Homo sapiens: one gene and its partners. The protein of the gene in region 3 interacts with the protein of the main gene of each other region in a pairwise test. Each region holds a gene or a part of one and is shown on either strand. Other genes may lie near its edges. The genes, in order: NDUFV2, DGLUCY, MSRB2 and PEX26.

What was found.
Region 1: the proteins of MSRB2 (region 3) and NDUFV2 interact in binary tests that used the Homo sapiens proteins (3 or more experiments, as listed by UniProt).
Region 2: the proteins of MSRB2 (region 3) and DGLUCY interact in binary tests that used the Homo sapiens proteins (3 or more experiments, as listed by UniProt).
Region 4: the proteins of MSRB2 (region 3) and PEX26 interact in binary tests that used the Homo sapiens proteins (3 or more experiments, as listed by UniProt).

What each region holds. Positions count from the first base shown.
Region 1 is NC_000018.10:9,105,697-9,112,731, reverse strand, and holds part of NDUFV2 (NADH dehydrogenase [ubiquinone] flavoprotein 2, mitochondrial precursor), read right to left. Parts: intron 695-7,035; exon of another isoform or gene 1-694.
Region 2 is NC_000014.9:91,222,038-91,226,132, reverse strand, and holds the end of DGLUCY (D-glutamate cyclase, mitochondrial isoform b precursor), read right to left. Parts: intron 1,450-4,095; coding exon 1,300-1,449; 3' UTR 501-1,299; downstream 1-500. UniProt on the Homo sapiens protein: D-glutamate cyclase that converts D-glutamate to 5-oxo-D-proline.
Region 3 is NC_000010.11:23,112,571-23,119,605, reverse strand, and holds part of MSRB2 (methionine-R-sulfoxide reductase B2, mitochondrial precursor), read right to left. Parts: intron 561-7,035; coding exon of another isoform or gene 431-560; exon of another isoform or gene 303-430; coding exon 155-302; intron 1-154. UniProt on the Homo sapiens protein: Methionine-sulfoxide reductase that specifically reduces methionine (R)-sulfoxide back to methionine.
Region 4 is NC_000022.11:18,087,955-18,094,989, reverse strand, and holds part of PEX26 (peroxisome assembly protein 26), read right to left. Parts: intron 7,019-7,035; coding exon 6,915-7,018; 3' UTR 1-6,914. UniProt on the Homo sapiens protein: Peroxisomal docking factor that anchors PEX1 and PEX6 to peroxisome membranes. PEX26 is therefore required for the formation of the PEX1-PEX6 AAA ATPase complex, a complex that mediates the extraction of the PEX5 receptor from peroxisomal membrane.

The DNA of each region.
Region 1 (7,035 bases), on a different chromosome or scaffold from region 3:
CAAGCGTATCACTTGAGGTCAGGAGTTCAAGACCAGCCTGGCCAACGTGGTGAAACTGCATCTCTACCAAAAAATACAAAAATTGGCCGGGTGTGGTGGCGCACACCTGTAGTCCCAGCTACTCAGGAGGCTGAGGTGGGAGAATCGCCTGAACCTGGGAGGTGAAGGTTGCAGTGAGCTGAGATCACACCACTGCACTCCAGTCTGGGTGACAAAGTGAGACCCTGTCTCAAAACAAAAACAAACAAAAAAACCCAATGAAGTCTTTAGTTCTTTCCCTGTCTTACTATCACCACTATTTCAGACATTATTTCATGTCTGTGCATTACTGTAAGTCTTCTGGCTGATCCCTTTTTCTCAATCCAAAACATCCTGTCTAATATCACCAAACTAATTTTAAAAGTACCATCCTTCTGGCCAGGCGCAGTGGCTCACGTCTGTAAACCCAGCACTTTGGGAGGCCAAGGTGGGCAGATCACAAAGTCAGGAGTTCGAGATCAGCCTGGCCAATATGGTGAAACCCCATCTCTACTAAAAATACAAAAATTCACCGCGTGTGGTGGCGCACACCTGTAGTCCCAGCTACTTGGGAGGCTGAGACAGGAGAATTGCTTGAACCCAGGAGGTGGAGGTTGCAGTGAGCTGAGATCGAGCCACTGCATTCCTGCCTGGGCGACAGAGCGAGATTCTCTATCAAAAAAAAAAAAAAAAAAACCCTTCTGATGCTGAGTGTGGTGTAAAAGATGACCAACACCAAACACGTTCTAGTATATGAAATGTCAATTTCATCATTTCTAATAAACACATTTTCCACATTCTAGCACCTCTGAAGGTGGGATGTATCACTGTTATCTAATATTCCATAAATATCCTATGTATGGAGAGACAATATAGCAAAATGGCTAAAAGCTCAGCTCTAGAGCCTGTTTCCTCATTTATAAAAACAGAAAAATAACGGCATGTACTTCATAGGGTTCTTGAGAGCATTAAAAGATGTACTTCAGGCCGGGCACAGTAGCTCATGCCTGTAATCCCATCACTTTAGGAGGCTGAGGCGGACGGATCACCTGAGGTCATGAGTTCGAGACCAGCCTAGCCAACATGATGAGACCCCATCCCTACTAAAAATACAAAAATTAGCTGGGCGTGGTGGCACGTGCCTGTAATCCCAGCTAACCAGGAGGCTGAGGCAGGAGAATCGCTTGAACTCAGGATGCAGAGGTTGCAGTGAGCCCAGCTCGTGCCACAGCACTCCAGCCTGGGCAACAGAGTGAGACTCTGTCTCGGGGGGAAAAAAAAAAGATGTACTTCATGTAAAGTGCTTAATATTCTGCTTGGCAGATGGTAAGTACTGTATTAGTGTTGGCTATCATTAGCTATTATTATTAGAAGTACTATGTGTCAGGCACTAAGCTTTTTACACATTATTTAATTCTTAAAGTTTCCTGCAAGGTGGGTATTATTCCCAGAAATTTAAATGAGTTATGAAAACTTCTCAAGGTTAGGTCACATCACTAATTATTGGCAGAAATTATGTTAGATCCTAGGGCCAGATGATTACAAAGGCCATGACCTTATTATTAGCCACCTGACTGTTTGATGACATCAAAGCTTTAAAAGAACATAGTAGGTCTAAGAAACCAAGGAGTTTAAGGAAGAAAATCAGGCCTCCATATATACAGGCAGGCAGATAAGAAATGAAAAGCCCTGCCTCCTTGGCTTACAATGCTCCTGTTAAGAGAGAAAGATGCAAGTTATTTAATCTTTTTTTAATCCTTGCCACCCTTCTCTTCTATTCCTGCAAAAAACCTGAACGTATACACACTAGCATAACATTTGAGCAACTTAATTTCAAAGTCCGAAGTCGACCTCTTCAAAGTTGTATAAGAAGGGCTGAGATAATGTTTATAAAATAAAAGAAGCTGGCCAGACACGGTGGCTCACACCCATAATCCCAGAACTTTGGAAAGCCAAGCCCCATAGATCGCTTGAAGCCAGGGGTTTGATATCAGCGTGGGCAACATGGTGAAACCCTGTCTCTACAAAAAATACAAAAGTTAGCCAGGCATGGTGGCACATGCCTGTAGTCCCAGCCACTTGAGAGGCTGAGGTGGGAGCATCGCTTGCGCCCAAGAGGTTGAGGTTGCAGCGAGCCATGATCATGCACTGCACCCAAGCCTGGGAGACAGAGTGAGACCCTGTCTCAAAAAAGTAGTAAGTAAACAAACAATAAAGAAAGAAACAAACTAAATAGTGAAGATAAACTGATAAATCTTAGCTCTCGGTTTTTTTCAACTGGCATAAACTGTTATTCATCCCTATCAAGTTACAGGTGGCCTGAAAATGGCTTTGAAAATTGTTTTTTTGGTGTGTTTAAAGAATATCACCTATTTTACATTCATTGTAATGTCTACGTCAGACACTTTCAATAAAGGAATAAAACATTAAAAGTTCTCATTAACATCTTTACACTACTTACTGGGCCATTTCAATTTTGTTTCACTTTGAAATAAAGAGGCATTCCAGGACCAGGCTTAAAACTGGAAAAAACAACCTAGCTAGGCTGGAATGATTCAAAGAATAAGCTGAGTTCCCACCCACCCCCTTCTTTGAGTACAGTCTAGTCTTTTCTCTAGAATCTAGCTTCTCATTAGACTCTGAAATGTCTATACCTCAAGAAATTCCAATTGAGTCCAATTGAAAATCCAAGTAACTTCCTTTTTTTAAGAAGAAAAGCATGCAACCAAGTAACTTTTTTAAGTAAATAAGATCATAACCTAATATACAGCTCAAAATTAACAGTGGGTTTGAATTCTAGCTTATTTTTTTTTCAGTGTTTCAGAAGGAAAAGAAAAGATTTAAGCAGGCCAAAACAGTGACTGCCTTTTCGTTGGAGTCAAGTAAACTTGAGTGCCTCTGTGTTAAGCTCTTCTACATACTTTTTTTCGTCGATTCCTAAAAAATCTGTAGTGAGTCATTATTTCCATTTTACATTTAGAGAAACTCAGGCTCAAAGACAGTAACTTGCCCCATACCGCACAATTAGTGACAGACCTGGATTTTGAGCCCAGGCTCTTTCAATCTAAGGGCCCTGTGCTCTTTCTACCAGCCTTTCCCTTTTACTGTCACTGGCAATACCAATAGCTCAAAATGACAAAAATTAAAGTTTTATATTCTCCCCAATAGGATTCCTTAATTGTCTTTTCATGGGCTCTACTCTTTTTCTGAATTTCTTCTGTTGTTCAAACAATACTACCATCCAACGAAGCTCACTTTTCAGTTCTATCAGACATTTGCATTATAAATGCATCCAGCTAAGAGAAGTTAATAAGAGACTAAGAAGCTGTAAGACAAAACTGACAGAAGCAGTAATCTAATTAGTCAGAAAGACAAGACTAAGGTCAGGCAATTCAAAAACCCTTCTTTTTTCCTTTATTAGAGGCCAACTAAGGCAAGGAATATACCTTTTAGATGATCCCTAATATTTACAGATTAAATCCACCAAGATATCTATTTGCCTGTGCAAGAGTCACAGTGCACACATGAAACATCTCTAGTGAATCCAAAGTGGTCTGAGGTCCCTCCGTGCCTTCCTCTCACTGTTCACAACATCTGCTGACTTGTTACCTACAGCCTCCCCTATTGCCAGCTCAAGCAAGAAAACTGAAACCTCCTAAAAAAGTCAGGGTCTGCAATACATTCATTCAGACTAGGTAATTTTACATTTAAAAAAAATCCTTGAGGCTGGGTGCAGTGGCTCATGCCTGTAATCCCAGCACTTTGAGAGCCGAGGCAGGTGGATCACTGGAGGTCAGGAGTTTGAGACCAGCCTAGCCAACATGGTGAAACCCCATCTCTACTAAAAGTACAAAAATTAGCCGGGTGTGGTGGCACGCACCTTTAATCCCAGCTACTTGGGAGGCTGAGGCAGGAGAATCGCTTGAACCCGGGAGGCAGAGGTTGCAGTGAGCCAAAATCACGCCACTGAACTCCAGCCTGGGCAACAGAGTAAGACTCTGTCTCAAAAAAAAAAAAAAAAAAATTCCATGAAAAACAAAAGTTTTTCAGTGCATTTTATTTTAACAAAGTTGATGCTGGGTTAATAATTGTGAAATCTATTTCAAGGATAATCATAAATACAAATGCTTACTCTATGTCAGATCTCATGCTATAAACTACAAATCTACACTATAATCCATTTATTCCTCTCAGCAAGCCTACCAAGTAGGTATTATTATCTTGTTTTACAGGTGAGAAAATTAAGGCTCAAAGAAGGGGGAAAAACTTTCCCTAGCTCACACAGCTAAATAAATGAAATGCCACATACAGATTTTCCTGACTTCAGTACATGCCTTAACCACTAAAATTTAAGTTTTGCTGTATTTTCAGATAGAAATAGGAGGACTTTTACAAACATCCTCCAAATAAAGTTCCATCAGTAATTTACCTAAAAATGTTAATTCAGGTTAAAATGTAAGTAATTTTTACCATACTATGAGAGAATTAACAAATGTAATTTGGCTAAATTTTATATTATAGAAAAGCTGCATGAAGAGCCCAGGTATTACAGGCACTGTGCATTACAGATTAAGATAACAGCATTAATGATTCCAGCCATCTTGACCATATATTAAAGAAAACATTCTTTAGATATCTAAAATCCCACATGGATATAAGCAACAACCAATTGTTCTAAGGACAAGAATAATTTATAGAAATGAAATGCCCATCCAGTGGACCCGGGGTTCAGTCTCACCTCATGCACTTCAGTGTCTTTGTATATGTAGCTAGCTATACCTACAGCATTATCTCAACTTACACCTTCCACTCATCCATCATGACCAAGGTTAACCTCCTCCTCTTACCCCTTTAAAGCCCCTAAACCTCCATCTCCTACCCCTTTAAAGCCCCTAAACCTCCATCTCTTTTCCCTAAGCAAAGTGAAATCATTTCCCTAGTCTGCTTACACTGGTACACCTTTTATTATTAGAGTGCCTATTAAATTTAAATCTTCACCATACATAGTGATTTCCCTTAGCAACTTCAATTGTTTGAGCAACTTCAGAAAGGTAGATTAAAAACAAAACAAAACAGGACTTGCGAATAAACCCAGCCCTTACTACTGTGTGATCTTGGGCATTTATTTGTCCAGCAATCTTCATATATCTCACACATAAAATGGGGTAACACCTAGCAAAATATCCGACAGATAAAGCCACCTTCCCCCTAACCAAAATGTGTGTAAACTGTCTTTGATGTTTTGTAATGAAAGACATTTCCTACAACTGATTTATAACATGCTTCCTGAACTGATTCAAAAACTAGTGACAAGGTTCCTCATTGGAAAATCAGACTGACTGTCACTCAATAGGTTATACAGCATGGGCAACAGACCTGTAATTTATTACTCAATGTTCTGAGCACTAAGGTACTAAACAGTGCCCAAAGAGAAAGGAAAGTCAACTTTTTATTACTTTGAAATGGAAACTGAGTTCAAGTCTCTAATAAAAAGATCCGAGTCTGCAGTTTGCAATAGTGGCCTACTGAACCTCACTGCATAAACTAAAGTTTGTTCATTCTCTCTCTCCTTAAACTGCTAATTTATGGCTATGGCAGGCAGAATAATGGTCTCTCAAAGATAACCACATCCTAATCCTGGAAACCTGTGAGTATTAGTTTACACAACAAAAGAGAATTAAGGCTGCTAATCAGCCGACCTTAAAATAGGGAGATTATCCTGGATTATCTAGGTGGGCCCAATGTCATCAATCACAGGGTTCTTACCAAGAGGCAAGGAAGGATATGTGATGAATGCCAGGAGGGTCGAAGTGATGTGATATAAGAACTAGACTTGCCTTTGCTGGCTTTGGAGATGAAAGAAGGGGCCAAGAGCAGCCTCTAGAAGCTGGAAAAGCCAAGAAAAGACATTCACCTCTAGAGCCTCCAAAAAGGAATGAAGCTCGGGCTACACTTTAATTTTAGCCCACTGAGACCTGTGTCACTTTTAACCTACAGAACTGTAAGGTTAAAAATATAATGTTTTATGCCACAAAGTTTTGTGGAAATTTGTTACAGCAGGAATAAAAAACTAAATGTTTTGGGGTGTTTTTCCTACATTAACTTCTTTAGAGTCCTTTGAGTCACAATGGAGATACACTGGGACATTACAAAATCAAGTTTAAGAATCTCTAATGGAATGGGGAAAACATTTCATTGTACAAAACTTAAAATTTGGAAGGAAAAGTACCACCACACAAGATGGCATACTTCTAGTATGGCTAAGTAGACACTGTCAGGGCAAACCACTGAATAATAACTATAAACTCTGGACAAAATATTTTATAAAAACAAAAGCTTTCTGAAGGCACTGGGGAACAACCAAACAGGCAGACACAGAAGGGGAGTCTACATTCATAAAAAACCAATGAGGTTTTTGTTTTTTCTTCACATCTTTTAGCCTGAAGGCAGGCCTCAGTGAGAGTTTGGAACAACAGACATGGTAAAGTGGGAAATCCTAGAAAAGGAAGAGCCAGAAAGGGGGAGGGAGCCCTATACATTCTGTATATAAATTCTACGGAAATCTCTGGCTGAACCCTGAACCATGCATGTACATGCTGCAGACTCCAAGGAGCCTAGCTAAAAGAACGGAACCAATATTTGATCTGCTGCCCACAAGGGATATGGATAGCAACAACAAAACACACTATTTGGAGGAATAAAACAGGATCTAGAGCCTCTACAACGTATCATTCACAAAATTCAGCATACAATCCAAAATTGTTCAACATATGGGAAACAAACAAAAAAGGAAAACACATTTTCAAGAAAAAAATCAACTAAGATTACCAGACACAAACTTCAGGACAGCTATAATCATGCCTAAAGACATAAAGGAAAATATCCTCGATGAATGAAAAAATACACAATACAGATGGGTCGCTGACTTACAATTGCCTGTCTTGCAAATTCCCAACTTTACAACTGTATGAAAATGATAAGTATTCAGCATGCTCCTCGATTAAGTCCAGATAACCC
Region 2 (4,095 bases), on a different chromosome or scaffold from region 3:
TGCTCCGATGTTGATGACATCGAAGGCACCCCTCCCGAGGAAATCTCAACTGCACAACCCCTACTACGCCCCAATTCAGCAGGAAGCAGTTAGAGCAGTTGTCAGCCAACCTCCCCAACAGCACTTGGGTTTTCCTGTTGAGAGGGGGTACTGAGAGACAGGACTAGCTGGATTTCCTAGGCCAACTAAGAATCCCTAAGCCTAGCTGGGAAGGTGACCACATCCACCTTTAAACACAGGGCTTGCAACTTAGCTCACACCCGACCAATCAGAGAGCTCACTAAAATGCTAATTAGGCAAAAACAGGAGGTAAAGAAATAGCCAATCATCTATCGCCTGAGAGCACAGCAGGAGGGACAATGATCGGGATATAAACCCAGGCATTCGAGCCAGCAATGGCTACCCTCTTTGGGTCCCCTCCCTTTGTATGGGAGCTCAGTTTTCACTCTATTAAATCTTGCAACTGCAAAAACAAACAAACAAAAAAAAAGACTTTCACCTTTTCACTTAAAGGAAGCCCTTTATGGCCTCTTTTTGGCATATCCAAATTGCCAGCATCTCTGCTCTTGCACTTTGAGGACATTACTGAGTCACATAAGAGGTTCTTGAATATAAGCACTGCAATACCATGACAGTCGATCTGATCACCTGCTGGGTGACTGGCAGGCGGGTGGTGTAGACAGCACGGGTACCCTGGACAAAGGGAGGATTCACGTCCTAGGTAGGATGGAGCAGGATGGTGTGAGATTTCATCACGATATTCCGAAGAGTACACAATTTAAAACTTAAGAGTTGTTTATTTCTGAAATTTTTCATTTAGTATTTTCGGTCTGCAGTTGGCTATGAGTAACTGAAACCATGAGTAACAGAAACCATGGATGGGGGAGGATGACTGGAGTCTGGAGTATCCTATCCTACATGGCCTGGGAATGTTTGTTCTCATGCTCTGCCTGGCAGTTAATTGTTCACAAGTGTCCCCATAAGTAACTGTCGAGAAGATTCTCACAGGAGACCACGTGGGTTGCCTGAAGAAGCCAGAGTGAAGGAGGGTTGAAATCAACGCCTTTAGAGTCTTAGGAATAAAAGTTAAAAAGCCCCAGAGAAATGTTGTCCTTTGTCCACAGCACCTGCACTAACCCCTCCCAGAAAGTGGGCATGCAGTTTCCCAGGCCAGGCGAGTGTTCGTTGCTCACCGAAGACCAGTGTTTACTAGCAGGATTGTCGCCAGAAGCAGCTGCATTCTCCCCGGATGCAGACCTGCCCGTTGGTAGGGACTCTGCTCACACGGAACATGGACGGTTACACCTGTGCCGTGGTGACGTCCACCAGCTTCTGGATCATCTCGGCGTGGGTGTTGTGGAAGGGCAGCCCATCCACCTCCATGCCCACGATGCCCGAGACGCCACTCCGGACTTTGTGCTGCACCAAGATGCCCAGCATTTTTTCTTCCTGGAAAAAAATAGGGCAGAAATAGAAGGAGTGGAGGGGGAGGAAAAAGAAATTTCTTTTATACACATTTATAAGTGAGAAGGATCCTTTGCCTTGACATACTTGCTTTTTAAAAAAGTAAAATTTTGGTTTAAAGTACTAATACCATTGGAAAAGTCATGAAAAGTAAGTGTCCTCCATCACAGCTCATTGGCCCCCAAATCTACTCCCCAGAAACAATCACGGGAATAGTTTGGGCTGCTTCTTTTGGTAGTTACTGTTATGTAACTAAATAATATGCTTTAATGGAAACATAGTTTCTTAGTTTGATTGTCCGTTTTTAGAGATGGGGTCTTGCTATGTTGCCCAGACTGGTATTGAACTCCTGGCCTCAAGTGATTCTTCTGTCTCAGTCTCCTGACTAGCTGGGACTATAGGTGCACATCACTGTGCCCGGCCAGCCTGCATTTCCTTAACCAACACTGAAGATTCACTCCTCCTGCAGGTGCAGTGCAGGCTATTTCCTGCCAATAAGTTCCTCCCAGCCCTGGATTATCTGCCAATAGTCTTTGTGCCAAAGGCCCCCATTTCTCCTGAGACCTCTTAGCCTAATGTGGGGCATGTGTCAAATCCTGCTGCTGTTGCCTTCTAGAAATGACCAGGGTGACTGTGGGAGTGGGAGCATCTAGGTGTAGCAGAGTCACAGAGAATACAAGCCCCCATCCTGAAGCCGCAGCCCGGGGCCTAGCAGGCAGAGTGGTTTGGGGATCAGAAAGGTCTGACTTGAGTCTTTCCTGGCAGGAATTTTAACTGTTCTGTGCCTTAGTGTGCTTATCTGTAAAATGGGGAGGGTGATGATAAAAGTACTCATCATGCCTCCTTTAGAGGGTTGTTCTGAGGATTACGTACAAGCAAAGCACTTAGCAGGGTCCTTGGCACACAACAGGCATTCACAAAATGAGGTTGATTTTATTGGCAGGGCTAGGTCTTCTGGCCTTTAGCCTAGAGCTTTCTCCCTTTGCTCTCCTGCTGGTTAAAAAAAAAAAAAGTGGTTTGATCCTCCTCCATCCCCCCTCCTTCCAAAAATAAAATCCCAAAGCACCACTTGCCCAAGCCACTAATGTGTCTGTCCCTAGTGAACAGCTCAGGTTCCCCTAAGGACAGTGAGCCTTAAGTGAAGGCATAAAGCAACTCAAACACATCCTTCCCTCTTCTTCTTCTTCCTCCTCCTCCTCTTCCTTCTCCCTGTCTTCTTCCTCCTCCACAACAAAGGCAGGAGGTGAGAGGAGGGGACCTAAGGAATCTAGAATAGGACATTAGGGCGGCTATAAGAAGGCTCTCTCCCTGCTCAGGCATTTGCTCATTCATCCCACCATTGATCAAAGGTTTATTGAACACCTGCTAAGTATGTGTCAGGCCCTGAACCAGGGATACAGTGGTGAATGTGACATGGTTCCTGCCCCCATGGGGTTCACAGTCTAGATGAGTAATCAGGTAGTCATAGTACAGGATGTCACAGCACAGAGCAGGGGCACCCAACCCAGCTTATTGGCATGGTTCAGGGAACATTTTCTGGAGGCAGGGTGTTATGGACTCAATATGTACCCTCAAATTTTGTATGTTGAACCTAATCCTCAATTGTTGGAATTTGAAAGTGGGGTCTTTGGGAGGTAATAAGATTGAGATGAGGTCATGAGTGAGGGTCAGGATGTGAAGTGCTCTTATAAGAAAAAGAGAAACCAGAGCTCTCGCTCTCTCCACCACATGCGGACTCAGCAAGAAGGCGGCCATCTGTAAGCCAGGAAGAGAGTCCCCACCAGTGAATCAAAACTACTGGCACCTTGATGTTGGACTTCCCAATCTCTAGAACTGTGAGAACTAAATTTCTGTTGTTCAAGCCACCTAGTCTATAGTTGTTTTTTAAAATAGCAGCTTGAGCTACGACAAGGGGCAACTAGGATCAGAGGTGATGAAAGAATAAAAATGAGCCAGCTGAGAGCCCTGGAGGGTCACTCACTAACTTTTTCTAAGTAATAGAGAAAGCATTGGCAAATGTTAACTGCAAACTGTCTCTTCACAGCTGGCCTGAGAGCCTGCATTTCTGTTCTGCCCTGGGGGCCAAGAAGGATGTTCCTCTGTAGGAGGGAGGCCCTAAATTGTTTCCACTTTCACATGTGTCCTTTGTCCAACAGCTCCTTCTCAGGAGCTACCCACTCAGAATGGCATTTCCCGCCCTTTGTTTGGGCTTCTTCCTCTCGCTTCTCTTCTCCACTGGTCATATCCTCTCTTTATGGGGGAATGTTTCTGGGACTCCTGGGGCCATTTCCTCACAGCACACTGTTTCCCTCACCATTCTCATCCTTCTGGGCCCCAGGAAGGGCTGTGGGGTCCTCAGGGTGCACGCAATCAGCCAACAGGTTTCGAGCTGACTGGCACCCAGCCTCCAAGAGACACAGGGACCAGCTGGGCCAACAGCTACTCCCTGCAAATTTCCAAGAATCACGGAATGACCATGCCATCTTCTAAGAGGCAGAGGTGGTAACAGTGGCAGAGAATTACCAGGGAGCAGCTGGAGGGCAGGGCGCCTGAAGGCCACTGCACCAGTCCAGGCTGAGACAACAGGGCAGGAGAGGAGGAATGGAGGACCCAAGTGAGGGAGAGTAGACA
Region 3 (7,035 bases):
ACAAAACAAAGCAAAACAAAAAAGAAACCCCATGTGTTCTGAAGACAAAAGAAAGTACCCCTATAAAAGGACACCAGATTTGCCAAGAACAAGAGAGCTCTTTGTGGCATTGGGGGCAGCATCAGGGAAAGTAAAACAAAATGAGAAACCTCACCTGCTTGCAGACAACCTCTGTGCGAGCTGATCCTAACGAGGTATCCAGACGTCTCAGGATCCCTGTGTGGCTTTCATCAGAGCCAGACGTACCATGAGCCTCGGAAAACGAAGGCCACCCAGTGCCAGAGCAGTACTTTTTCTCAGAACTGTGGAAGACATAAACGATACTACAGCTGCTAATGACACTGTCATTAACATGCCAAGAGGTGCCCCGATGTGTTGTTCCAGGCAGCAGGATCTGTTCCCACTCTCCTCTGCCAGATCCCATGCCCAGTTATTCGACAGTCAGTCCCCCCGGAATCGTCCTCACTGCACCTTCACTATCGAAGCCATTGCCTCTCGAAGTGGAAGGACTTCTTGATCCTTTGATGCTAAAGACTTCTTTCTGGATATCCAACAAGGATCTAAAAACACATGGTGTTTTGTGAACTGTGTTGCATATTAGGTAACACAGATCAAACCCATGTGTTGAAAATGTCAAAAGGGGAGAAATCAAAACGAAATACTAATGCTCGGAGGAAGTCATCATCATCTTAGAGCAGCGCAGAAGTGTAAGGTCTGATGAGAAAGTCATGCTTGGCAACAGGAATTTCAGGTTATCTCAACACAGACGCCTGACCAGGGATTCAAAAGCTGCCTCTGGCCACTTCTTAGCTGTGTGAAACCACAGCTCTTGAAGCCTCAGTTTGCTCACCTAGCAAATGGGAATAATATCTACCCTACAGGGCTGTTTTGAGGATTTGAGGGGAAACTGAAGTGTGACATAAAGCTTAGCACGGTGCTGGGCACATGGTAAGTTCCCTGAATGCTTGCTGTGATGGTGATGATTAGTATTAATTAATACGCCTGGGTACCTGGCATCAATCACTGCAGTGAAACCTAACCCTCCAGAAGTCTCCCAGGGACTCATGATGCTGGCACAAGGAGAAGGACAGCAGGCAAATCCACTCACCAAAGACCCACCCTCTAAGTGCTCTCATGGATAAGCTCCCTTAAATGGCACTGGGAAAATAGACTTCAAAAATTGCTGTGGCAAGGAAATGGCTCTCTCTATCTAAGGAAGAAAGAGAAGAACTGAATGTTAGACCCAGCCAAAAAAAAAAAAAAAAAAACAAAAAACTAATCTAAGAAGAAAAAGTAGCAAAGAATCAAATCCCTAGACTATGAACACAGAAGGAAGCCTAGCTGGCAGCACAAACTCCCACAGAAACAATTGTGTAATGCAGCAATTCTCAAACATTTTGGTCTCGGCACCCCTCATGTCCCCTCTGTGTCCCCAAAATTAATAGGGATTGCTGAGAGCTTTTGTCTGTGAGTTACGTATGTCAACATTTAACAAATTATACATTATAAATGAGAATTTAAAAATATGTGTGCATTAATTTTTTTTTAATATAGGTTGAGTGCCCCTTATCTGAAATGCTTAGGACCAGAAGTGTTTCGGATTTCAGATCTTTTTGAATTTTGCATTTTACTTGATGGCTAAGCATCCTTAATCTGCAATACTCCAGTGAGCATTTCCTTTGACTAGCATGTTGGTTCTCAAAAAGTTTCGAATTTTGCTGGCGTGGTGGCCCACGCCTATAATCCCAGCTTTTTAGGAGGTGGAAGCGGGTGGATCACTTGAGCTCAGGAGTTCGAGACCAGCCTGGCCAACATGGTGAAACCCCCTCTCTACTAAAAATAGAAAAACTAGCTGGGCATGGTGGTGCATGCCTGTAGTCCTAGCTACTTGGGAGGCTGAGGCAGGAGAATAACTTGACCCCAGGAAGCAGTGGTTGCAGTGAGTGGAGATCAGTCAACAGAGCGAGACTCTGTCTCAAAAAATAAAAAAGTTTCAGATTTGGGTGCATTTCAGATTTCGAATTTTCAGAGTAGAGATGCTCAACCTGAAATAAATTTATTATATGTTAACATAACATATATTTAAGGCAAATAATTATACTTTTCAAAATGAAACAAACATTTCATGAGAAGAGTTGCACTGTTTTACAATTTTGCAAGGCTCTTTAACATCCGGCTTAAAAAAAAGACAACTGAATCTTCATATGTGCCTCTGAATTCAGTCTGTTGCTATGTTGTTTTGATTGGAGTATAAGAGGATGTGGCCTCAAGTGGTCTCAAGTGTGGTTGGAAAAGCCCCTAGAAAGGTCCCCCCCAGGAATCTCTGGGGTCCTCAGACCAGGCTTTAAGAACCACAGGTATAGCCATTAGAGGAAGGGCTTTGACTTCTGAAAGATTTGTGTGTGAATCTGGGATCTGTCTGTTACATCTGTATCACCTTGGCAAGTCATTTAATTTTTTGAAGCCTCAGCATCCTAGTCTATAGATAAGTATAAACTAAAAATAAAGTTCTAAGCCACCCACTGACTGAATAGAGCCCTTCTTGGCCAAGAGGACTCCAGAAAAACCTTTAAATCGAGTTTCCGGTCATGATGGGACAGGAGGTCAGACACACCTCATTATACCCTCTCCCTTTTGTGGTTTAGACACAACAAATGACCAGCATTAATGTTTAAATAGAGATCATAAGACTGGCAGAACAGCCTCTTTGTGGCAATAATATACCAAATTATAAACAGGACCTAAGGCCATGCCAGGCGAGGGTGAAGTCATGCACCCCTACACTTAAAGAATCAACTCTAACTGCCACAGGGGTTTTCTTCTTCTCTAGCAGCTAAACAATCACTGGCCTTGAGATAAGCAGTGTTGAAGCAATTGCAGCTCATCTACCATCAGACACTGACTAGCTGAGACCCTCTGTTCCACCAGCCGTAACTACAGCTTTGATTGCACAAGAGACTGATTTTAGTAACTTTCTCCTGATTAAAAGACCATGAAGTGGTTCTGGATGGTTTACAGAGGCTGTGCACTTGTGGGCCTTCATATCCTGAAAGACCTTTTGATGTATAGGATCTAATTATAATACATTTAAATGTTAAGTTTCTACCCCCAAATAAACATAGGTCATATGTTACATGCATGTTTGTTCAATATGTGTATGTCAGGACCATCTTCACAAATTTTCATAGCCCCTTCTGTGATCTGTTAAATAGGTATATTTAGCCAACCCTCTCAGCATAAAGCTCCTACCCCAGCTGCTCCCCCTTCCAAGTGCCTGCATCTGCTCTTGGCTGGGAGCTCGCTTCCCAGCCTGTAGGATGGCCACCTTGAAGGCTGTAACCCTTTAGAAGAAATAAAGTCTCCTTTTCTAAATTTATAGATTGTATGATTGTTTTAAGCTAACAATAGCAATGGCATTATCACCTCACTTTCTGTGTGTGTGCTTAGCATAGTACCTGACACATGGCACTTGAGTTGGTAGCTATTTTTTAATATTTTTTTATTATTAATACCAGAAATCTATGGAATGTGAGCAGTTGTGGGTCCAACTAGAAATGTCTGCATATTCAGGTCGGATTCTTTGCAACCCTCCTCCAGGGGTTCAAAAACATTCATCTGGCCACTCTGCTCAGGGAAAAACATCATTAAGTATCTTTTAATCCCAGTCTTTCCATCCTCAACATTATATATCAACTAGTGATCATTAAAGGTATTTTGATTGAGAATTATGAATACAATAAAATTTTTTAAATAAATGAAACTAAGGCTAATAAAAACTCATTAAAGCATTTTATGGGAAACAATAAACCTTTATTGATGCAATTAGCAGAATCGGGAGATTTTTACCAAGTAATATGAGAGGCCTAACATATATAAGTTAAGACTGGGAACCAAAATATTAAAGCCAATCAGAAATTCCAATATACATATTTAAGTGATTAGCAGATTGTAAGGTTTGCCCTTGAAGAACTAAAACCATTCTGAATCATATACTCTAAGGGATTTTTACTTTGTTTCGTTTTATTTGCTTTGGTTTTCCTTGATTTCTGGAAGTTCTACAGGTCCCAAACCAACAGCACAGGCACTTGGTGATAACTGACAACCCTAACCTCTTAGAAGAATTTCTATTCCTTTGAGGGAATGGGGCATACAGAAGGTTTTTAACAATATTACTTAGTTACTCATGGTACATACGACATCAGGATATTACGTAAAAGGTGAACTAGTATCAGGCTCTGTTTCCTCTTATTTTAAGAAGATTTGTGATCATGAAATATGTGATCCCACAATAGATTTTAATAAACACATTCCAAATAGGCTCATGTAGAAGAAGAAAGGGAGAAGGAGGAGAGGAAGTGGCAGTGATGGGCAATGTCACTTCATTCCGAGTTAAGGAAAGAGAGTCTGGAGTCCCTAGGAGTGTGACAACACATTCTGGAAAGTGTTCTTGACCCAGACACCTTTGATTAAAGGTGTCTGATTTGGAGAGGCAGAAGCTCTCCAAAACTGTGCACCAAACTCATTCCAACAATTATAGGATGATGAGGAGAATGACGCTAAGTCTGGTGGATGAGGCTGGGAACAAGGCTCTGGAAAGGGAACTCATGAGTTACACTGGCTGGGATCACTCTCAGAGGCTGGTTATGTCTTCTGGGAAACTTACACCTGTAATAAGGAAAGCAGGCACCAAAAGGCGATGGCACCTATGTCAACGGAGCTGCCCGTGTGGCTTAATGGAAGCTCAGCTAGTGAAGAATGTGGGCTCTGGAGTCCAAAACTGTGGGTTCATATTTTGGCTGGCTACCTGTAAGCTGCAGAACCCTGGACAAGTTATTTCATCTTCCTAGCTCTCAGTTTCCTCACGTGAAATGAGAATGATAATAACACTACGGGGAGCTGCCGAGAGGTCTGACGAAACGATGCACATGAAGAGCCTGGGCATGGCACCTGCCGCGTGCCCAGAGGGCTCCTTCATTGCTGGGGTGCTTCCCACTCTCAAGAAGAGTGCAGTGGAGCCCAAATCCCTGCACTATCACTTACTAGACAAGTGACCTGGAACAAGTTAGTTAAATTCTTTAAGCCTCAGTTTTCACATCTGTTAAGTGAGGGTCTTAATAGCTCCTTATTGGAGGGTGAGGATTGTTTGCAAAGTACTAGAGCCCAGTGTCTGGCATGTAAGTGCTCAAGAAGTTGCAGCCACTTCCCTCACATTTTCACAGTGATTTCATAATCACAGCTTTTTTTTTTTTTTTTTTTGAGATGGAGTCTCACTCTGTCACTCAGGCTGGAGTGCAGTGGCTCAATCTCAGCTCAATGAAACCTCTACCTCCTGGGTTCAAGCAATTCTCCTACCTCAGCCTCCTTAGTAGCTGGGATTACAGGCATGTGCTACCACGCCCAACTAGTTTTTGTATTTTTAGTAGAGACAGGATTTTGCTATACTGGTCAGGCTGGTCTCGAACTCCTGACCTGCAGTGATCCACCCGCCTTGGCCTCCCAAAGTGCTGGGATTACAGGCATGAGTCACCACGTTCAGCCCGTAACCACAGCTTCTGATAGTCCCAACATTGCTATGATGTCTAAGCAGCAGGATGGATATTATTAATCAACCAATCAATACGTACTTATGGAGCATCTAAGTATTAGTTTCCAAGGTGGCTGTAACAAAGTACCACAAAATGGGTGGTACTCTCTCACAATCTTGAAGATAGAAGTCCAAAGTCAAGGTGTCCACAGGGCTCTGAAGCATCTAGGGAATCCCTCCTTGCCTCTTCCTACCTTCTAAGGTAGGCAGTCTTCGGTTTGTAGCTGCGGATCACCAATCTCTGCTTCCGTTTTCACATGGCTGTCTCCTCTCTGTCTGGGCTTCTCTTCTTCTTATAAGGACAGCAGTGATTTTGGAATTAGGGCTGACCCTACTCCAATATGATCTTATCTAAACTAATTATACCTGCAGCCACCCTATTTCCAAATAAGGTCACATTCCCAGCTTACAGGGATTAAGACTTCAACATGTCTTTTTGGGAGACACAATTCATCCCATAACAACTTCCATGAGCCTTGTCCAAGAAGCATAAGATGGCCAAGGGACTCGAAAGCTAATCAAGTTTATCTCCTTAACTAAATAAAATACTTGATCCAATAGGAGAATAATTAGGTCCTAAATTGTGTGATACTGATAAATTAATAGGAATTTGAAGCAGATTAAAAAAAAACCCATGGTGTGTGCTATCAGAGAAGGTTTCAGGAGAAATCTGGGATCCAAAAATAAGTGGAATTTCAATTAGTATTAGTGGGGCTGAGCAGATCCCAGGAGGCCAGCTCAGCATGAAGGGAAGTCCCAGGCAGGAAGCAGCCAAGCTGGAGCAGGGAGCTCAAAGGAGTGAGCCCTGCATTTACTTGTTAAAAGAACTACTTAGTTTTGGTTGACCAACTTTCCCTTCACTTTCACTCCACACAAGCATTTGAAGGAATTATTTTTTCTGTACCTCTGCTTCCTACTATAGAGACTGGAGACCAGAGACAGAAAGAGAAGGAAAATGAGAGGCAAAACCAGAATATATTTCTAAAACTCCTCTTGAACAGGAAGAAGTCTCAGGAATATAGTCTGCATTTGTATGTTCTCATTAATTAGAATATATCCTCCAGAATTCCTCAGGATCAAAAGCGCATTCATGTATACAGCCCTAAGAGGGATCTATTGCTTAAGAACACATCATTACGCCCGGGTGCGCTGGCTCACGCCTGTAATCCCAGCACTTTGGGAGGCCAAAGCGGGTGGATCACCTGAGGTCAGGAGATCAAGACCATCCTGGCTAACATGGTGAAACCCCGTCTCTACTAATAATACAAAAAATTAGCCAGGCATGGTGGCACACGCCTGTAATCCCAGCTACTCAGGAGGCAGGAGAATCGCTTCAACCTGGAAGGCAGAGGTTGCAGTGAGCCGAGATCGCGCCACTGCACTCCAGCCTGGGCGACAGAGCGAGACTCCATCTCAAAAAACAAAACAAAACAACAAAAACATCATTACTA
Region 4 (7,035 bases), on a different chromosome or scaffold from region 3:
GCCTAGATTCAAATCCCAGCTCTACCATTTAAAAGCGGTGGGGCACTGGGCACATTAGCCCCTCTGAGTCTGTTTTGCTGTCTCTAAAATGATAATATCTACCTCGCTGGCTTGAACCCAAGAGGAGGGTGCAGTGAGCCGAGATCGCACCACTGCACTCCAGCCTAGGTGACAAGAGCAAGATTCCATCTCAAAAAAAAAAAGAAGAAAAGAAAAGAAAAGAAAAAAAAAGCCAAAGGAAAATAAGAAACTAGCTATGGAGGCAGAAAAGGGGCAGTCAGTGGGGTCAGAGACAAGGCAAGAAGCCAAAGAAGGGATGGCCCTCTACCGCATTTGGAAAATAAGCCTGTAACATAAAAGTATGCATGCATTTTTCTGAGGGCAAGAACCTGTAGGTTACATTCTGAGGACCATACAAATCGGTTTTCCACCTAAGAAACTTCTCCATGTAAATTATGTTGAGGTCGTCATTAAAGAAGCTTTTTTCTCTCCAGGTGCCGTGGCTCACGCCTGTAATCCCAGCACTGTGGGAGGCGGATCACGAGGTCAGGAGATCGAGACCATCCTGGCTAACACGGTGAAACCCAGTCTCTACTAAAAATACCAAAAAATTAGCCAGGCGTGGTGGCGGGCGCCTATAGTCCCAGCCACTCGGGAGGCTGAGGCAGGAGAATGGTGTGAACCCAGGAGGCGGAGCTTGCAGTGAGCTGAGATCACGCCACTGCATTCCAGCCTGGGTGACAGAGCGAGACTCCATCTCAAAAAAAAAAGGCTTTTTTCTGAAATGACACTCTTCTACAAAAGTGCTTTCATTTCTTCACCAAGTCTCTGCTATTATCTGACACCTGTCCGTCCCACCTTGGATAGTACAAAAGTGACAAGAGGATGCTAAAAGTTTTAAAGGGGCTGTTGGAAAATACGAGCTGGGAAACATGTAGAGCTAAATATGAGCTCAGGTCAATATTAAAATTGGAAGTAGGTCACAGAATCCCAACCCCACATATTTGGATCCAGCCCTTGGTGAGTGGGCCTTGGACTGTACTTCACAATCCCATCTTCACCTGCAGTTGTCCGGCCAACATGGCCCCTTCCCGCCTGCCCTTTCCTAACCACCTCCACTCTCTCTAGTGAAGACGCTGAGCTCGCAGCCATGCTGGTTGCACACTGCCATTTTCTACAGGTTCTCAAGTGCATGGGCTGCCAAGAGGGTTGGGTGTTTACATTTATTTTTAATAGAAATGGGGTCGTACCCGGGGCATCTCTTTTCTTCATACTGCAATGTTGCTAGATACACAATCAGACACCAGAGGGTTGGGCATTCTTGCAATACCTTAACAGTGCTGAAACCTGCAGCATGGTACTAAGGAAGTTAAAGTTAGAATGTAACCACTTTATTTAAAAGGTTTATTTTTGTTTTTTTTTTTTTTAAGACGGAGTCTTGCTCTGTCCCCCAGGCTGGAGTGCAGTGGCGCCATCTAGGCTCACTGCAAGCTCCGCCTCCTGGGTTCACGCCATTCTTCTGCCTCAGCCTCCCGAGTAGCTGGGGCTACAGGCACCCGCCACCACGCCCGGCTAATTTTTTGTATTTTTTTAGTAGAGATGGGATTTCACCGTGTTAGCCAGGATGGTCTCGATCTCCTGACCTCGTGATCCACCTGCCTCGGCTTCCCAAGGTGCTGGGATTACAGGCGTGAGCCACCGCGCCCGGCCAGGTTTTTTTCTTTAATTTAAATGAAATGGGGTTGAAGTGAACATGATCTTGTTGACCATGTTCGTGAATTATAGATGCAACATGCATTGGTAGAATCGTGTGATGGTCTTTTGTGATACTTAATTTTTACATATCCCAGTCTCTGTATGTATCTGCACAAAGAAAAAACAAACTCCTGCTTTGCTCTTATTGAAGGGTTCCCAGGACTGCGTGTCTGCTCCTGAGCTCTGTTTTAAGTATGTGTATCCTTTGCTTGTATTTTGTATTAAAAAAGTAAGAAAAAGAACCCTTTATTGTTGAGCATGTTGGCATTGTCCCGTTTATTTTTTTCTCTTTTTGGGACATATGAAGCAAGTTATTCTTTTTCTGTATCTTTTTTTCTTTTGTAAACTTTTTGTTTTTTTCTTGTTTAAAATTGGCTTTATAAAAGGGCTTTTATAACCCACCCCCCCCCCAAAAAAAAGAAATGGGGTCCCACTAGGTTGCCCAGGCTAGCTTTGAACTCCTAGGCTCAAGCAATCCTCCCACTCTGGCCTCCCAAAGTGCTGGGATTATAGGTGTGAGCCACCATGCCAAGTTAAAAAAAAAAAAAAAGTCTGTGAAGCAGGAGTTGCAGGAAAAAAAAGAATTAGTTAATTAATTAGGGGGAAAAAAGCTGAAAGAAAATCAACCGTATTAATAGTAATTATTTCTGAGTGGTGGGATCACGAGTCCTGTATTTCCTTCTATGCAATTAATATTTTCTAAAATATACATGCATTGCTTTAAGACAAGAAAAATACTTGCTGTTTTATCAAGAGGCCTAGAGGTGGCAAACAATGTCTGGATCCGTACACCACCGCTGGAGGAATGCAGAGGCGGGCGGGGGCGCGACAGGCTGCTAGGCACCGTGCCCACTGTCTGTCCTGTAGCTTCCTACCAGCCCGAAACACTGAGGTTTCCAGAGGCAGCGAGGCAAAAGGGCCAGACATTTTTCTGGTTAACACTCCATGTATTCAGTTTCCAAAGGTGCTAGGCCAGGGCGGTGAGGCCGACCTTGGCCAGGCCGTGGGTGGGTTGCTTGACTAGGCCAGAGAGTAAATCAGTAGAATTCCCACAGGCCCCATCTGTGGATGTGAGGCCAAAGTCCATCGGCCCCACGGCTTTTCCGTGCTGGGAGGGAGGAAAGCAGAGGACGGCACAGGGAGGCTGGGAGGGAGGAAGGAAAGCAGACGACGGCACAGGGAGGTGCCCTACTCGCGGTTCATGTCATCACTTTCGCTTTCTGACAGTTCCTTGGGCTGCTTTAAGTGGATAGCAGAGGCCACCTTCTAGATGTAGAAAGAAACTGAACGTCCAGAGTGTGAACTGGCCTGCTTGTATCTCCCCTCGGCGGCAGTGGTGGTTGCCAGCCTGGCTTGCGTTTGCCCAAAAGTAATAGTAAAGAGCTCTGACCACTGCTGCTCACCCTAAACTTGGGGCTGCTGTACTTGTAGGCTTTGGAAAGCATGGAGGGGTTTCCACATATTAAAAAGGAAAAGGGCACCAGGTCTGTGCTCTGTGACCCCATCACGCAACGGAATGACACACAGCTATGAAGAATGAGGCTGCTCCACATATGCTGGGACTGAGAAAGGTTTTTGTGTTTTGTTTCGTTTCTGAGACCAAGTTTCACTCTTTGTTGCCCAGGTGGGAGTGCAATGGCGCGATCTCAGCTCACTGCAACCCTTGCCTCCCGGGTTCAAGTGATTCTCCTGCCTCAGCCTCCTGAGTAGCTGGGATTACAGGTACCCACCACCATGCCCGGCTCATTTTTTTTTTGTATTTTTAGTAGAGATGGGGTTTCACCATGTTGGCCATGCTGATCTCGAACTCCTGACTTCAGGTGATTCACCCACCTTGGCCTCCCAAAGTGCTGGGATTACAGGCATGCGCCACCGCGCCCAGCCGAGAATTGTTTTTTTTCTTTTTAAACGTGGCACAGTGTGTGTAGTGTATGTGACTACTATCATTTGTGTAAGAGAAAGAAAAGTTTACTATCAGAGACTGTATCTGGAGGGATAAACAGACTGGCAAGGGTTGCCTCTGGGCAAGAAACTGGGGAATAGAGAGCGGGAGTAGAAAGACTGTATTAGCTGGGTGTGGCAGCACACACTGTAGGCCCAGCTACTCCAGAGGCTGAGGGGAAGACTTGCTCAAGCCCAGGAGTTCAGGTCCAGCCTGGGCAACACAGCAAGACTAAAAAAAAACAACTTTCTTTTCCAAGAATACCCTTTTTGTAACTTTTGAATTCCGTATTTTTTAATGGTCTATGGTCTACAAACACTCATGTGCAAACACATACACGCAGAATAGGGATCACCTGCACGAAGCTATGAACTATTTCCTCATCCCTTCTAGCCCCTTCCTAGAGGCGAACCCTCCGCCCCCACCCCCAGGCACTATCTGTCCTGCTTGCACCCACCTCCACCCAGGGCTGGCCAACAATAGCCTGTTTCCTCTCCATTCCACCCCTCTCCCCCACCCTCCCATCCCACCACAGAAGAGGATTACTGGTTCCTGCTTTCCTTAGCGCCCCTAAATTTAAAGGTATCTGTTCTATGTTGCATGCTTCAGAACCCTGTAGAAACAACCAGCAAATCCACTGTTGATACGCAATTACCCCTCTTGGATGCATCTGCAACAAGCACTCCCCAGCTTCGAAGGGGCAGCAAAGAAGTTCACAATTACAAGACCATGGGGTCACGACCACAGAAGCGATATGAAACAGGTCCCGGGACACAGGGAGGGGCAGAAAGAATTCTTTGAGTAAGCCTGGAAGGTGGAGGGGCTCACCAGGCCAAGAGCAGGTGCTAGGCCTTCAGTAGGAACAGTGCGAGCCAAGGCACAGAGGCCAAGGGGAGCGAGCTGTAGCTGTGATGGTGGGCAGCTGGAAGGCCGCACATATAATCAACAGGGGACCCACATCAAAGGGGAGATCTTAGCCAAAACCAGCACATAGGGGCCTTCAATTCCATGAAGAATTTAGATGTTATCCAGTGAGCCATGGGAAGCCATTGAAGCGTTTTATCTAGGGTAGTTAAGTGGGCCCAGATTTTCATTTTAAGAAATCATTCTATAGAAGGAATCTCAAACCTCACCTGACTGCTTTTCTCCCCCCAGGGTTCTAAGCTTTACTTAAAAGCCCATATAAAAAAGTATAGATTTGCTTCCTACAGACTTGAACCATGCCCTAAGGATTTAATTCTAAGGGGCCTGTGAAGTTTACCTACTTTACTCATTTTTCTAAAGAAAAGTTGGCCGGGCGCGATGGCTCACACCTGTAATCCCAGCACTTTGGGAGGCCTAGGTGGGTGGATCACAAGTTCAGGAGATCGAGACCATCCCGGCTAACACAGTGAAACCCAGACTCTACTAAAAATACAAAAATATTAGCCAGGCGAGGTGGTGGGCACCTGTAGTCCCAGCTACTCGGGAGGCTGAGGCAGGAGAATGGCATGAACCCGGGAGGCGGAGCTTGCAGTGAGCTGAGATCACGCCACTGCACTCCAGCCTGGGTGACAGAGACTCCATCTCAAAAACAAACAAACAAACAAACAAACAAAACAAAAGAAAACTTGTTGCCTTGCAACCCCCGAAAATGTACCAAGGAAAAGCTAGCAAGCACCTTCTCTATTTTGGGCATCAACACCAAGGACACAGTGCAGGGCAGCCTGCTTGGCCTCTGGGTAGAGAAAGGCCAGCCCCTGCAGAAAGCCCTTCTTCATCCTGACAGCACAGCAGTGCTCTACGCTTCCTTGCACAGAAACTCATAAGATGCTTGTGGCTGGTGAGAAAACAACACTGAAACATTTCAGCTCCTCAAATGCTAAGGCCTCGGTGCCACCTCCCTAAGGTTTTATTGTTCACTGCCTTCAAAACCCATGTCTCCCGTCTGCCCCGCCCCCCACATCCCTTCCAGCTCACCTGATTACTCAGTTCCATTTTCAGCTCAGCAGCCTCTGAGGCTGGCCTACTTTTCAAGGCCACACGAGCAGAAAAATTTGGGCATTACACAAACAACAGAACATAACTAGGACAATGGGACACAGAAAGGGAAGAACCTGAAATGGTGTGTACCAAGGAGGCAAGGATACAGGCAGAACCTGGTGAAACAGCCAAGGGACAAGTTTGCAGGGCGGGAGGGAAGGGCTGGCGGGGAAAGAGTGGGCAGAGGCACTGAGCGTAACAGAGCAAGACTTGGCCAGGACAACCTGGAAAATTGAGCTGAAGACCAAGAGGCACCAGGCAAGATCACTTTACCCAGCGATAAGAGCTGTAAGGCTCACTTGGTTTTCAGTAGTCAACCCGGTGGTTCTGAAAACCACACCCCAGCCTGAACAGTGAGAAGGCTCCTGCAGCTTCAAGCGCATGGCAAGACCATGGGAACAGCCTATTGATACAGAATTAGATCAGCTCTGGGGAGCACAGTGCAGGCAAGAAGAGGCCCTCTCAGATCTACTCTAGCTAATTAAGGTACTGTCCTGTGGGGCATGTTTTTTTGTTTGTTTTGAGAGAGTGCGGTAGCACAATCTCAGCTCACTGCAACTTTTGCCTCCCTGGCTCAAGTGATTCTCCTGCCTCAGCCTCCCAAGTAGCTAGGACTATAGGCGTGCACCACATCTAGCTAATTTTTGTATTTTTAGTAGAGATGGGGTTTCACCATGTTGGCCAGGCAGGTTTTGAACTCCTGGCCACAAGTGATCCACCCACCTCACCCTTCCAAAGTGCTGGGATTACAGGCGTGAGTCACCATGCCCAGCAAAGAAGTATGTTTCTCAAGAAGTGAAAGGCCAAGGGTCACTTCACCAGGCTTTTTCTGAACTTCCAGCTCCATTAACATCCTGACCTGAAGAACCAACCCCTTGCCTTCACCAAGAAGATGGAATGTTTCATGGACACAGTCCCTGTCCCCAAACCCCTCCTTTTCAAGGGGCCTCTGGTCATCCGGGGCACTGTTCTGGAGGTGCTGTGCCTGCTGGTCCTGCTTTGTTTCCACATCATCTACCGCGACCAGCCGAAGTAGGGTGCAAAGGAGAGGGCACCCAGGCAGCAAGACACAGTGCACTCCGCGAGATTAGGCTGGTCCCATTTCCCCAGGGGCGCCTGTGGATGTGTCGCTCTGTCGCTCTGCTTCTGTGGCCACGGACGTGAGGAGCAGAGAGGCTGTGGTGCGCAGGGACCCTCAGTCACGGATGCGGAGCTGGTAGAGGCGAGAAAATGCAGCCTTCCGGATCCAGCGGAAGAGCTGGGCCAGCTTGTAGAGGAAGTGCAGGGAGGAAGGGGAAGCTGCAGGGCAGAGGGAG